3 linked regions of the Homo sapiens genome follow. The protein of the gene in region 2 interacts with the protein of the main gene of each other region in a pairwise test. Each region holds a gene or a part of one and is shown on either strand. Other genes may lie near its edges.

Region 1 (3,650 bases), on a different chromosome or scaffold from region 2:
CTTGCCAAGATCCTGATTTTCCCAAAATACCCTAGGTTATGCTTTCTTCCTATTTTATCTAAATCTCAAACTATTCAAAATTTTGTTATTGTTGGCTTTTGTTTCTGTTCTTGTTAAACAACAAAAGTAAGGACAGTATCCATTTGGGAGAGGATAGAGGTCTCCATCAGTATTTCTCATGTGATCATGAGTATTAGCTCAGATTGTCCAATGAAGAATGGGTAAATTTTATTTGGAGGGGAGAAGGACAGGGATCAAAGCAGCAGGCAGCTGCTGGTGGTTGAAGGGGCGGTGGGAGGGGAGGCAGATGGTCAGGCAGGGCAGACGTCAGACTGGAGGTCACAAGCAGAGGGTCATAGAGGTGTGTGCAGGGGTGTTGGAAGCTCATTGTCAGATTCCATTCATTTTACACTTTTGTTCTACCCACAATAGAACTCTACTACCCAATCCTTTTGGCAAAATCTTCTACTTGAAGAGAAAGGTAGATATGCTAAAGCGAGACTTAGATTTGTGTCAAACTCCACCAATTTCTAGCATAGGCAAGTTACTTGACCACTTTGGAACTCAGATTTCTCCTCTACTAAATGAAATTGTATTTAGTCATCTCTAAGTCCCTTCTTTGTTCTAAAATTTCTAGATCCCAAGCATTTTACAACCTTGATGGACTTTGTATCATAGAGCAAAAAACCCTGAGTTTATATTCACTTATTTTATTGTTTGCTTCAGATTGGGGCCGTTGTTGGTGGGGTCCTCCTTCTGGTGGTCGCAGTTGCTGGTGTGGTCCTGGCGAAAGGATCTTGGAATTCAGACATCACCCTTCTGACCATCAGTTTCATCTTTCCTTTGATTGGCCATGTCACGGGTTTTCTGCTGGCACTTTTTACCCACCAGTCTTGGCAAAGGTATAGTTAAACTATCCATAAACTTTTTTGAGGAAGGTAAATTTAACACACTGCCACTGGTAGGCTTTGCTGCCTGTGTCAGGAGACATGAAGAGTTTTGACTTACATAGTGGAATCGACAGGATAACTAAGCATAAAAGAGGGTCATTCATGGCAATTCATGGAAAATATTGTGGTAATTCTTTATGTAAATTAAAGCAAAGGCCAAATTGATAGGAAGAGATAAATTTAAGTTAAAAAAGAATAGAAAACGACATGATTTGATTCCCACTTCGTAGAAGAAAGCAAAAAGAATTCTATGCATCAAAATATACTGGAAGAAATACACCATATGGTAACAATGTTTAATTTTGAGTAGCGAAATTAAGGATAATTTTAGTTCTTTAGTATTTCCTTGGTATATTTTTGAAGCTTTTCAATAAGTATGTACTACTTTTAAAAGCAGAAAAAAATTACTAAAGAAGAGTAAACTATGCAGTTGAATTCCAAAGGTGAAAGTTGGGAATTTTTAATTGGCTTTATGCTACTTCTAATCCACTTGGGGAACATTTAGGGTTGTACTAAGCGCCCGGTAAAGCTTTACCCCATCTATCTCATTTACTTCTTACTACAAGCTTGAGAAGTAGATCCTATCACTACCCTCATTCTACTGATGAGCAGACCCTTCAGAGAAATTAAGTGACTTGACCAAGTTCATAGAGCTAGAAAATTGTGGAGTTAGGATTTGGACCTGGGTTTGTTTCCAAATTTAACAATTAGGAACACAGTCTGTTGAGTGGTTGAAATGCAATTGGCTCTGGACAGAAAGTACTCCTATGGCAAGATGTAGTCCACAATCCCATCTTTTTCATACCTGATAGCCTGACAAAGCCCAGGACTGAGATTTGGCTCATGAATGGTGCAGGTGTGAGTTCCAGCTTTGTAGCTTAATCATATCGAGTTTTTGACAAAAGTCTCAAAGAAGTGAGGGTGGTTTGAGACAAGTGTAGCAAGCAATAGAATAAGTAGAAATAACGTATGAACACAGAGCTTGCCCTGTACCATTGACAGCATTTTCACCCCCTCATTACACACCCTTGTTACTTCCCCATTCCAGTCCAGCTTGCACAGAGGTGCTTGTTTGTTTTCTGAAACACCTCTTTTATCTCCTCACTTCCACATATAAAACACTGCAGGCTCCCTTTATAAACTGGAGACGTGAAACTGCTTAACTCAGCCCTCAACATCCTGCCCAGGTCTTCCCTCTATTCCCTCCTTTGTCTTTTCAAATGAGGTTTACTTCATTTTATGCAACCAGAAAACCAATAAAGTATAGAAAAGTAGAAAGCAAAAAGAAAAATTATTACCAAACTCTTTCACCAAAGATAATCATTTTAGGAATTTGGTCTTTATTCAGGGTTTTTGTGTTTTTATTTATTTATTTATTTATTTATTTATTTATTTATTGAGACCTCGTTGCCCAGGCTGGAGTGCAACCTCTGCCTCCTGGATTCAAGTGATTCTCGTGCCTCAGCCTCCCGAGTAGCTGGGATTACAGGAGCGTGTGCCACCACGCCAGGCTAATTTTTGTATTTTTGGTAGGGACAGGGTTTCACCATGTTGGCCAGGCTGGTCTCGAACTCCTGACCTCAGGTGATCCACCCACCTTGGTCTCTCAAAGTGCTGAGATTACAGGCGTGAGCCACTGTGCCTGGCCTTGTTTATTTGTTTTTAAGTGTTGGTTAGTTTATATTGTTTCATATGTCTTTCAAAAATATATATACGTTTTTCTTTTTGTAGAGACAGGGTCTTACTCTGTTGCCCAGGGTGGTCTTGAATTCCTGGCTCAAGCAATCTTCCCGCTTCTGCCTCTCAGTGCTGGGATTCCAGGCATGAGCCACCATGTCCTGCATCATATCTCTAACTCAACTTTCCATTCTTGTCTCCTCCAGTCCTCTCCTCTCTGCAGATTGGCTTACAGTATATGCAATGCCTGCTGAACAGGCCACACTCACACCTCTCCCTGGAACTTTAATTTTTATAATATTTCCCCCTCATCAAAAGCTTCTTCTATTTTTTTCCATCCTTAAATCCCACTCCTCTGTGAAGCCTTCTCTCACCCCTTCTGCCATTTTCTAAATTTCTACATCTGCGTGGCCTTTGGCCATACTTTGTCTTGTGTTGTTGCTGAACCTCTCCTGTGTGTTTATCTTGTCTTTTTACTCAGATGCCTAGGGCAGGGTTTGCAAAGCCTCACTCCACCGTGCCTCTCAGAAGACCACCTGCAGAATAGGCACTCAGCAAATAACTATGGAATGAGTACACATTTTCAGTGGCCTGAGGTCATAGCTTCTAATTGTTATGATGCATATGAGAAAATATTAGAATAGTTCTTATTGCTAGTGCGTTACTCTTGAAACATTTTCTTTTTGGTAGGTGCAGGACAATTTCCTTAGAAACTGGAGCTCAGAATATTCAGATGTGCATCACCATGCTCCAGTTATCTTTCACTGCTGAGCACTTGGTCCAGATGTTGAGTTTCCCACTGGCCTATGGACTCTTCCAGCTGATAGATGGATTTCTTATTGTTGCAGGTGGGTGAACACCCATTGGGTAGGAAATAACTGACGGGAAATTGTTCACCCCAACTTACCAACTTTTTTTTCAATCCAAACTTGCATGTGCTGCCCCTGTGATACACTTTTTGAAAGCCTGACATTTCTGGGGACGATAAGGCACATAGACAGGATAGTTTGGCGCACAAGTGGG
Region 2 (3,750 bases):
GAAAGAACTCAGAACCACAACAGATTCTCCAGGGGCAGCCTTTGTGCCTGGAGCTGCTGCTACACAGGCCGCCCAGGAAGACCCCCCCTCCAGCTCCTGCATGCCACATGCTCTCTCCAGAAAGTAACCACAACTGGGATACCAATGCCTATGCCATCATCACAGACTTCACACCACACACCAGGAAGTCCCTGAGTGCCCCTGCTGGCCTTGTTAGGGCCCAACGGCCAGAAACCTCAACTGCTGCCCTGTAGGCTCAAAAACTGGGTTTATCAACAGCTCCATTCATCTTTGTTTTTATTTCTTTCTTTCTTTTTATTTTTTTATTTTATTATTATTTTTTTTTTTTAAAGATAGGGGCTCTCTGTTGCTCAGGCTGGAGTATAGAGGCAAGATCATGGCTCATGGCAGCCTCCGCCTCCCAGGCTCAAACGATCTTTTCACCTCAGCCTCCCAAGTAGCTGGAACTATAGGCCCATGCCACCACGCCGGGCTAATTTTTAAATTTTTTGTAGAGATGGGGTCTTTATGTTGCCCAGGCTTGTTTCAAACTCCTGGCCTCAAGTGATCCTCCTCGGCCTCCAAAAGTGCTGGGATTACAGACATGAGCCACTGTGCCTGGCCTGTTATTTTTGTTTCCTCATTAAATGCTTGACTGCTTGCATCATCCAGCAAAAATCCTTTGCTACCAAGTCTCAACAGATGGTCCCGCTGGTAGTTTATGAACACAACACAGAACAGAAAATGGACGGGGACTGTTGAGAGGAAAGAAGCAGGTCTCTGCTCTTCTTGCACAGGGGGAGTGCTGACAAAGACCCTCCCTCCCCACACTCCAGCCAGGCTCCTTAGAGTCCCCTTCTCCACTGGGCCTCACCCTGGCCTATCTAGGCTGGAACGAACACTAACATAGCTCCTAACAGCTCAAGGCCACATTCCCAGAACGATCCTAGCCCCCTCTAAAGTGCCTGCCTGAGAAGTTCAAGGCTGCCACAAGAATTTCCTGTGTGTTCCAGCCAACACCTGAGGATGGGGCCCCTGTCTCCCAGTCTCTGTGGGAGGTTGGGGGCCTGACTTCGGTAAGCCCCAGTGGCAAACCCAGATCAGTTGGTTTCACAGGGGCCAACCCTCCCTTCCCAGTTTTGGTGATTTTCTGTTTCCCTAACTCTACTGAGTCCCCACCCCTTCCCACTCCCTCACTCTCCCTTTAAACTCCAGGCACATCTAGACAAATCAGCATGGAGCCAGCTTTTTCTCATGTTGTCAGTAGTTACCAAGTAAAATCTGTTTTTTCTGCATTAACTAGTGTCTCACTGGGCTCTGCAGGGCAGCTCCTACGGTCCCTCAGGCTTGGAGGGTCACTTTAAACAATAAAAAGCAACAGGACACAAAAATCCCTGGCTGGAAAAATCCAAAAAGCAGGTCTGTTAGCAGGGCAGGCCCGGAGTGACTTCCCCTTTCTCTAACATTCCCACGTGGTCCTGCACACCACACATCCCCCCGACCCTGGGGAGTCCTGGGCCCCTTCCTGGTGGAGCAGCCTCTCTCTTGCAGGGAAAGGCCCTGGGGTACCCCAAGGCCTCCAACAGGGAGCCTGTTGGAGAAGTCACCAAGGCCCTCTGAGTCTGGGGCTCCACAGACCCTCCCCCAGGCCTCCTGCAACTCTCCAGCTCTGAGAGTCTGATCCCAGCCCAAGGACCAAGTGGGACCCTCCCCTGTGACTCTACCACACCCTCACCAGGTCAAGCCCTACTCCAGGGAGAGGCTTATCCTCCTGGTCTGGACCCCCAACCCAGTCTTGAAGCGGGATCTCTCACCGCTATCTGGAGCCCCTCATCACAGCACAGATCTTCAACCTCAGCTTTCCACAAGGAGTCTGGGGACCCCACCCCGGTCCAAAGATCCCCACCCAAGGTCCGAATTCCCCAGTTCCCATCCAGATTCCCCACCCCAAGTCCGGAGACTCCCACCCAACGTCAGATCACTTCACAGCGGTCCGAATTCCCCACACCCTATCCCAGTGTTCCACCCTAGGTCTGAAGGCCCCCGCCCCGAATCCGGCCGCATTCGGCCCCGGTCTAGCCAGCGCTCTCACCTCTCCCGCGACGGCCCGCCCGGGACTGGACCCGCCCCGGTCCGGCGCAGGCAGCGCGGCGGGCAGCCCTAGCTGCCCCAGAAGCCCCACGACGATGGCGGCAATGGCGGTGGCGCTGCGGGGATTAGGAGGGCGCTTCCGGTGGCGGACGCAGGCCGTGGCGGGCGGGGTGCGGGGCGCGGCGCGGGGCGCAGCAGGTAGGATGGGGTCGGGGCGTCCCCGCGGTAGGTGTCCGCGCGGCCGGGGTGTCCTCGTGAGGGTGTCCGCGCGGCGGTGGCCAGGGTGTCCCCGTGGGGGTGCCCACGCGGGGGTGTCCACATACCGGCCTCTTGGTCTAGTCTTGCTCAGGAGTCCGGGCTGCTTCTAGCCACAAGTAGCCCCCTTCCCAGGTGGGGAAACTGGGGCTGGGTGCCTTGTCTAAGGTCCTGCTGTGCTGACTGCACCTGTGGTCTCCCAGAGCTGGTATCCCAGTAACAACTACAGTTCTGAAGATGATGATATCCCACCTCCCGAGGTCACCAGGCACCGGCCCCACTGGCCAGACTTCCCAACTTCTCCCCAGACCCCTAGACTCTAGAGGTTAGAGGCTGCACAGAGCAATGGGAGGATACACACTCGTCCTCCTGGAGCCCCTGAAGAACAGTTAACTAAATCAGGACAATAATCATAACTGAGCACTCGAAGCAGAGGCTGGGTGTCTGGTCACTCAGGACAGTTCAAGCCTCATCCTGTAGGACAGACTCCCCTAGATCCGACCAGAGCGCCACCATATCTGTTATGTGTGGCCAGTTTCATTCCATGCACGACAACATGGTCCCCCACCATGCAGGGGGCCCCTCGACCCAGCCCCCTGGATGCTTGTGACAGCGAGCAGCTCTCCCCACAGGCAGTGAGTGTAGAGGGGTGTAAGGACGGGGTCAGGGCTCCTTCCCAGGGATGGCGGCTATGGGAGGCATGGTGGCTGGCCCTCTGCCCGCGGTGGACTCGGGAGGGAGGGCTGACTGTGTGTGTGAATGGGCAGAGTTGGTGCTATGGAGGTTTTGGGGGTCTCCAGGACGGAGGGTGGCCCAACAGAGTTCTGGGAGGCAGTCACCACCTCGTGGCCTTGCTGAGACCTGGAACCCTCAGCCAGGGCACTCCATCTTTCAAAGCTTCTTGGCTGCATGCGTCAGGTGGGCAAGCTCAGGAAGGTTAAATGCACCCGTGCTGGCGGAGTCCCATAAAAGGGGATTCGGCATCAAAAGGAGGAAAAAGGTTCAAAGGGCATTTATCATGGGGTTCAGAATCACGGATGTGAGGGGCGGTAGTGGGGACAACAGACAGAAAAGCTTCCCCTTCCCATACTCACAGTCCAGACACGGCAATAGCCAAATTCCAAATTTCTAGGTATTCTGGACTCAGAATGGGGAATATCATACGAGACTTAGGGGGATAATGCCCTTATCTTCCTATTTTAAGGGAAAGAACAAACTGAACCTTCTATGCAAAATAGGATGATGATCCTGGTCCTCCCAGTAAGAAATAAAATAAGTAGTCTCCAGGCATTCCTTTCCGCCAGAGGAGCAACTGTTTTTTAAATAGCCCTTTCGTGCCCAGTCTGTTACTAAACCATATGAGTTGTTTTTTTGGGGTTTTTTTTTTTTTTTTTTTTTTGAGAC
Region 3 (3,650 bases), on a different chromosome or scaffold from region 2:
AGCCTATTTCCACATCCCTGTGGATTCATCCCTGTGGAAATCTTGAGAATCATTTATCCTATGCTGTCATGAAGCAGCAGCAGAATGGAGAAGGTTTAAAAAGACTCATGGACAGGCAAAGCGGTCAAACACCTCCTGGCTCAGACGCACTTGCCTTCCCACACACAAGTCTGGAAGCTCAGGATGGTGTTCACGGAGGCAGATGCTCGGGGCCGGGGCCTGAGTTTCCTGGGGCACAGCCTCCATATCTGGGGTTCCCTGGACTATGCCCAGATAGCTCATAATGTCCCAGCCTTATTTGTGATGGAGAAGGACTTGGGGAAAAGCCACCGGGAAGCAGTAAGTCTAACCAGGGAAGTGCACTGACTTGCATGCTTTGAAGAAGAGAAGGGAGAAAAGATACAAAACCCTCACCTGGTTTGTCTGTAACAGTTGTTATTTCTCAGGGGAGCTGCATTAATGGGCCAAGCCTGTGCAGCTGGGTGTGTGAAGCATGCATTTTGCAATGGACTGTCTCCAAAAGCAGAGCGAGGTCACCCAAGAAATCTAGAGCAAGGGAAAATACTCATTAGCAAAGGAATTTTGCTGGAGCCTTGTAACGGCCGACTCATTATTTCCTTTCCAAGTTATTTTAAATGAAATTTTAAAAAACATCTTGCTTTCCAAGAAATTTTGCTTGTTGGCATATGTTTGGTGTTTTGATTCAGTTTGGAGGATGAACTAGTTAATTTCCCTGGGAGTACATGCCTATTAAAAATATAGCATCCTGCATCTGACCAAGATGCTATCTTACTATCTTATTGTGCCTATCTTTTATGCGGAGAGAGAAAGGGGGGTGTTGGGAAGGAGACCAGACTGTGGAAACATTTTCTTTATTTTTTCTCTTTTTCTTCCTTTTATAGTTTGTTTATTTTTCAACTTGACATGGGTAGAGAAAGCGAATCGCTAGTATAGAAAGCACATCTGGAATCCATCCGGCCTCCTCTCTCTGGCTCACCCTCCTCCCAGCAATGTTTCTCCTTGGAAGTTGGGGGAAGGTAGGCACCTCTGACCTTGGCAGGGTCTAACTTGGGGTCATCCACTGCATACTCATCTTCCAGAAGGCGTCTTATTCCTCCTCGACAAAAAAAAAATGTGTTGGTATTAAAATGCTTTGAGGTAGGCTGGATGAACCCAGCTTAGTGAGGATGACATGAAAACCCTTAGCTAATGGGGTCTTTATTGAGTAGAACTCAGGTAAGTTCAGATGTAAGCAGTGTCTCTCAGTAAACATGAAAAGACTGAAGATGCAGACAATCAAATACTTAAGTCTCTTGAAGAGCTGGGTGGTGGGCGGGGGTCTTCCCAGGTGGTCAGGGAGATGTGTTAGTGTAGCACTTGGAAGAGAGTGGAACGACCAGGCAAGGATGTGCCGTGGAGGTGGGCAGTGGGAGCAGCCCAGTGTCAGCATCTGTATTGGTTAGAAGACCACCGCTAATGAGGAGGAGCGTCTCTACCCTGCAGCTGTCTGTACTCCTGTGTCTTCCGTAATGTGCCAAGCTCTCTGAATATATGCAAAACTAGTCTGCAAAAAGCCATATGTCTCAGCATCTGGCTTTATTTCTAAGTGTTCAGGTGGAATTTAAGCCGCGATCAAATTTACAATGTCACTGCCAGCTCTGGACACTTACTTTTGGAATAAAGCAAAGAGTGAACACTAATACTGCATCAGTCTTGCCCTCTGTTAGGGGCCGCCCCTTCTCCCCACACCAGTTTTGCAAGATGGGCTGGCTGGGGTCTGAGAAACCCAGTGCCTCCGAGTCATGGTTAAAGCCCATCTCAGACACCAACACACCGCTCACAAATCAACATCGACCTGCGAAAACATGGACATGTGTTCGCCAAGAGAACATCCTCAATCAATCCCAGCAGTGCTACTTGATGATAATCAACACATGGGCCATGGAAGAAATTACCCCATGTCCATAAACAAGAATGAATAGAGGGTAGTGTATCTACCCACACCATGAGAGCAAGAATATTCAGCATGCAGGTGCATCTATGTGCATGACTCGTACAAGCATCATGGGGAGAGGAAAGCAATGGACACAATTGTATCCTGTAGGGTTTCATTCACGTGAAGGTCAGAAGCAGGCTAAACTCACCTAGGGGAGAGTCCTATCCCAGGTAGTGGTCATGCTTGGGGACAGGTGGTGACTAGGAGGGGCACAAGGAAGGCTGCAGGGTCCGGCCCATCTTGTTGCTGGCCTGGGTGCTGGTCTCACTGATCTCTGTGTGGTGGGGCAGGTCAGCCTCCCAGGCCTGCTGGTGCCTGCAGTGCCCAGCACTCCTGCCGTGCCTGGCAGTGTTAGTACCAATCCGCCAGAGTGACTGACTCCCCTCTTGCCCTGAGTAGGGCTTGCTGACTCCAGGAGCCTCAGGGCGGGGTGGGCTTTGAGCTTTCTTCTAGCAAACTTGAGGTCTGTGGCTGGTACCCCTCAGGAGCGGAGGGGAACTCTTGTCCATGAGATGCTTTTAACCGTGCGCAATAATGTGTAGACGCATCCAAAATCAATCTGGCCTTTAGCCCAGCACTTAACTCTTGGGATGAGGCCTGCTTTGTAAATGTTGATAATCCAGAGAAAATGAGCTTTTAGATTCCAAAGACAGCCAGATATCTTCCACTTATGCAAAATGCAGAGAATCATATTTAACAAAAGATGTTCTGGACAAATATGCTTCTTGAGGGATGAATATTTAATTATAAGGGAAATGATAAATCAAACATTAATGGGAAAATATGTTTGCCCTCAAGATTCATGATTTTGATGGGTCTCTGGCAAATCTTATACTATGTTTATTGGGGTTATTTTATTGCTGGTTATTAGTTTTTAATTGTTTGCTTGTTTTCTGCTCTGATCAATTTTTGTATAAGCCGTGGGTCTATTCACCCTCTTCTCTCCATTCCCGGGAGCAAGTCCACATCTGGCTGTTGGATGCATGGCAAAAGCAAAGGTGTGGAGAAGGTTCAGAGGAGACAGGACATGTATAAAATGGTAGGGTCAGGTTGTCATGGGGGAAACTGAGGCACAGGAGGCAAGCTGAGTTAGTACAAGAACAGTCTGAATCATAACGACATGCCAGTATTACCTAAAAGGATGAGGAACATGGAGCTGTACTTGAATCCCTACGTGAGCTGGGGAAAAGGGGCCTCAGGAATCACTGACATTGGAACCAAGGTTTGTCTGCAGCTTGTCGGTTTCTGGGACAGAAACCCAACATACTGGAGTGGGTATCCCAGCAATCTGTAGGATAAACCAGGACACTGTGGTGTCATGGATAGCTGGCTGTCTGCCAGGTGATGGCCCCTCTGGTTGCAATGTGAGCCGGGCAGGTCATCCATTTGGCAGCATGGTGAGGGCTCTGGCCCCAGTTGCTATGGGAGGGAGGATGCTGGCACAGGGCACTGTTCACAGACTGCCTTTGCTCCATGCCTTTTCCATGAGCATGAGTGGCTGTTCGTGTGGGAAACGGCAGAGCCCTCGCGGTCCCCATCAGCACTGTGCAGTGGTACCGGAGGTGGCAGGAGACAGCCTGATGGCCCAGGTTGTCTTCATACCCGGCTTCATGCCAGGGTGCATGCCGGGCATAGCACATGTGTCCCTGAGAGG

The links.
Region 1: the proteins of COMT (region 2) and SLC10A6 interact in binary tests that used the Homo sapiens proteins (3 or more experiments, as listed by UniProt).
Region 3: the proteins of COMT (region 2) and S1PR3 interact in binary tests that used the Homo sapiens proteins (3 or more experiments, as listed by UniProt).

The regions. Positions count from the first base shown.
Region 1 is NC_000004.12:86,825,245-86,828,894, reverse strand, and holds part of SLC10A6 (sodium-dependent organic anion transporter), read left to right. Parts: intron 1-726; coding exon 727-902; intron 903-3,317; coding exon 3,318-3,475; intron 3,476-3,650. UniProt on the Homo sapiens protein: Transports sulfoconjugated steroid hormones from the extracellular compartment into the cytosol in a sodium-dependent manner without hydrolysis.
Region 2 is NC_000022.11:19,940,240-19,943,989, reverse strand, and holds the start of COMT (catechol O-methyltransferase), read right to left. Parts: upstream 2,187-3,750; 5' UTR 2,093-2,186; intron 1-2,092. Other genes in the region: TXNRD2 (thioredoxin reductase 2, mitochondrial isoform 5 precursor), read left to right, coding at 2,187-2,289. UniProt on the Homo sapiens protein: Catalyzes the O-methylation, and thereby the inactivation, of catecholamine neurotransmitters and catechol hormones. Also shortens the biological half-lives of certain neuroactive drugs, like L-DOPA, alpha-methyl DOPA and isoproterenol.
Region 3 is NC_000009.12:88,994,443-88,998,092, forward strand, and holds part of S1PR3 (sphingosine 1-phosphate receptor 3), read left to right. Parts: exon of another isoform or gene 1-1,700; intron 1,701-3,650. UniProt on the Homo sapiens protein: Receptor for the lysosphingolipid sphingosine 1-phosphate (S1P). S1P is a bioactive lysophospholipid that elicits diverse physiological effect on most types of cells and tissues.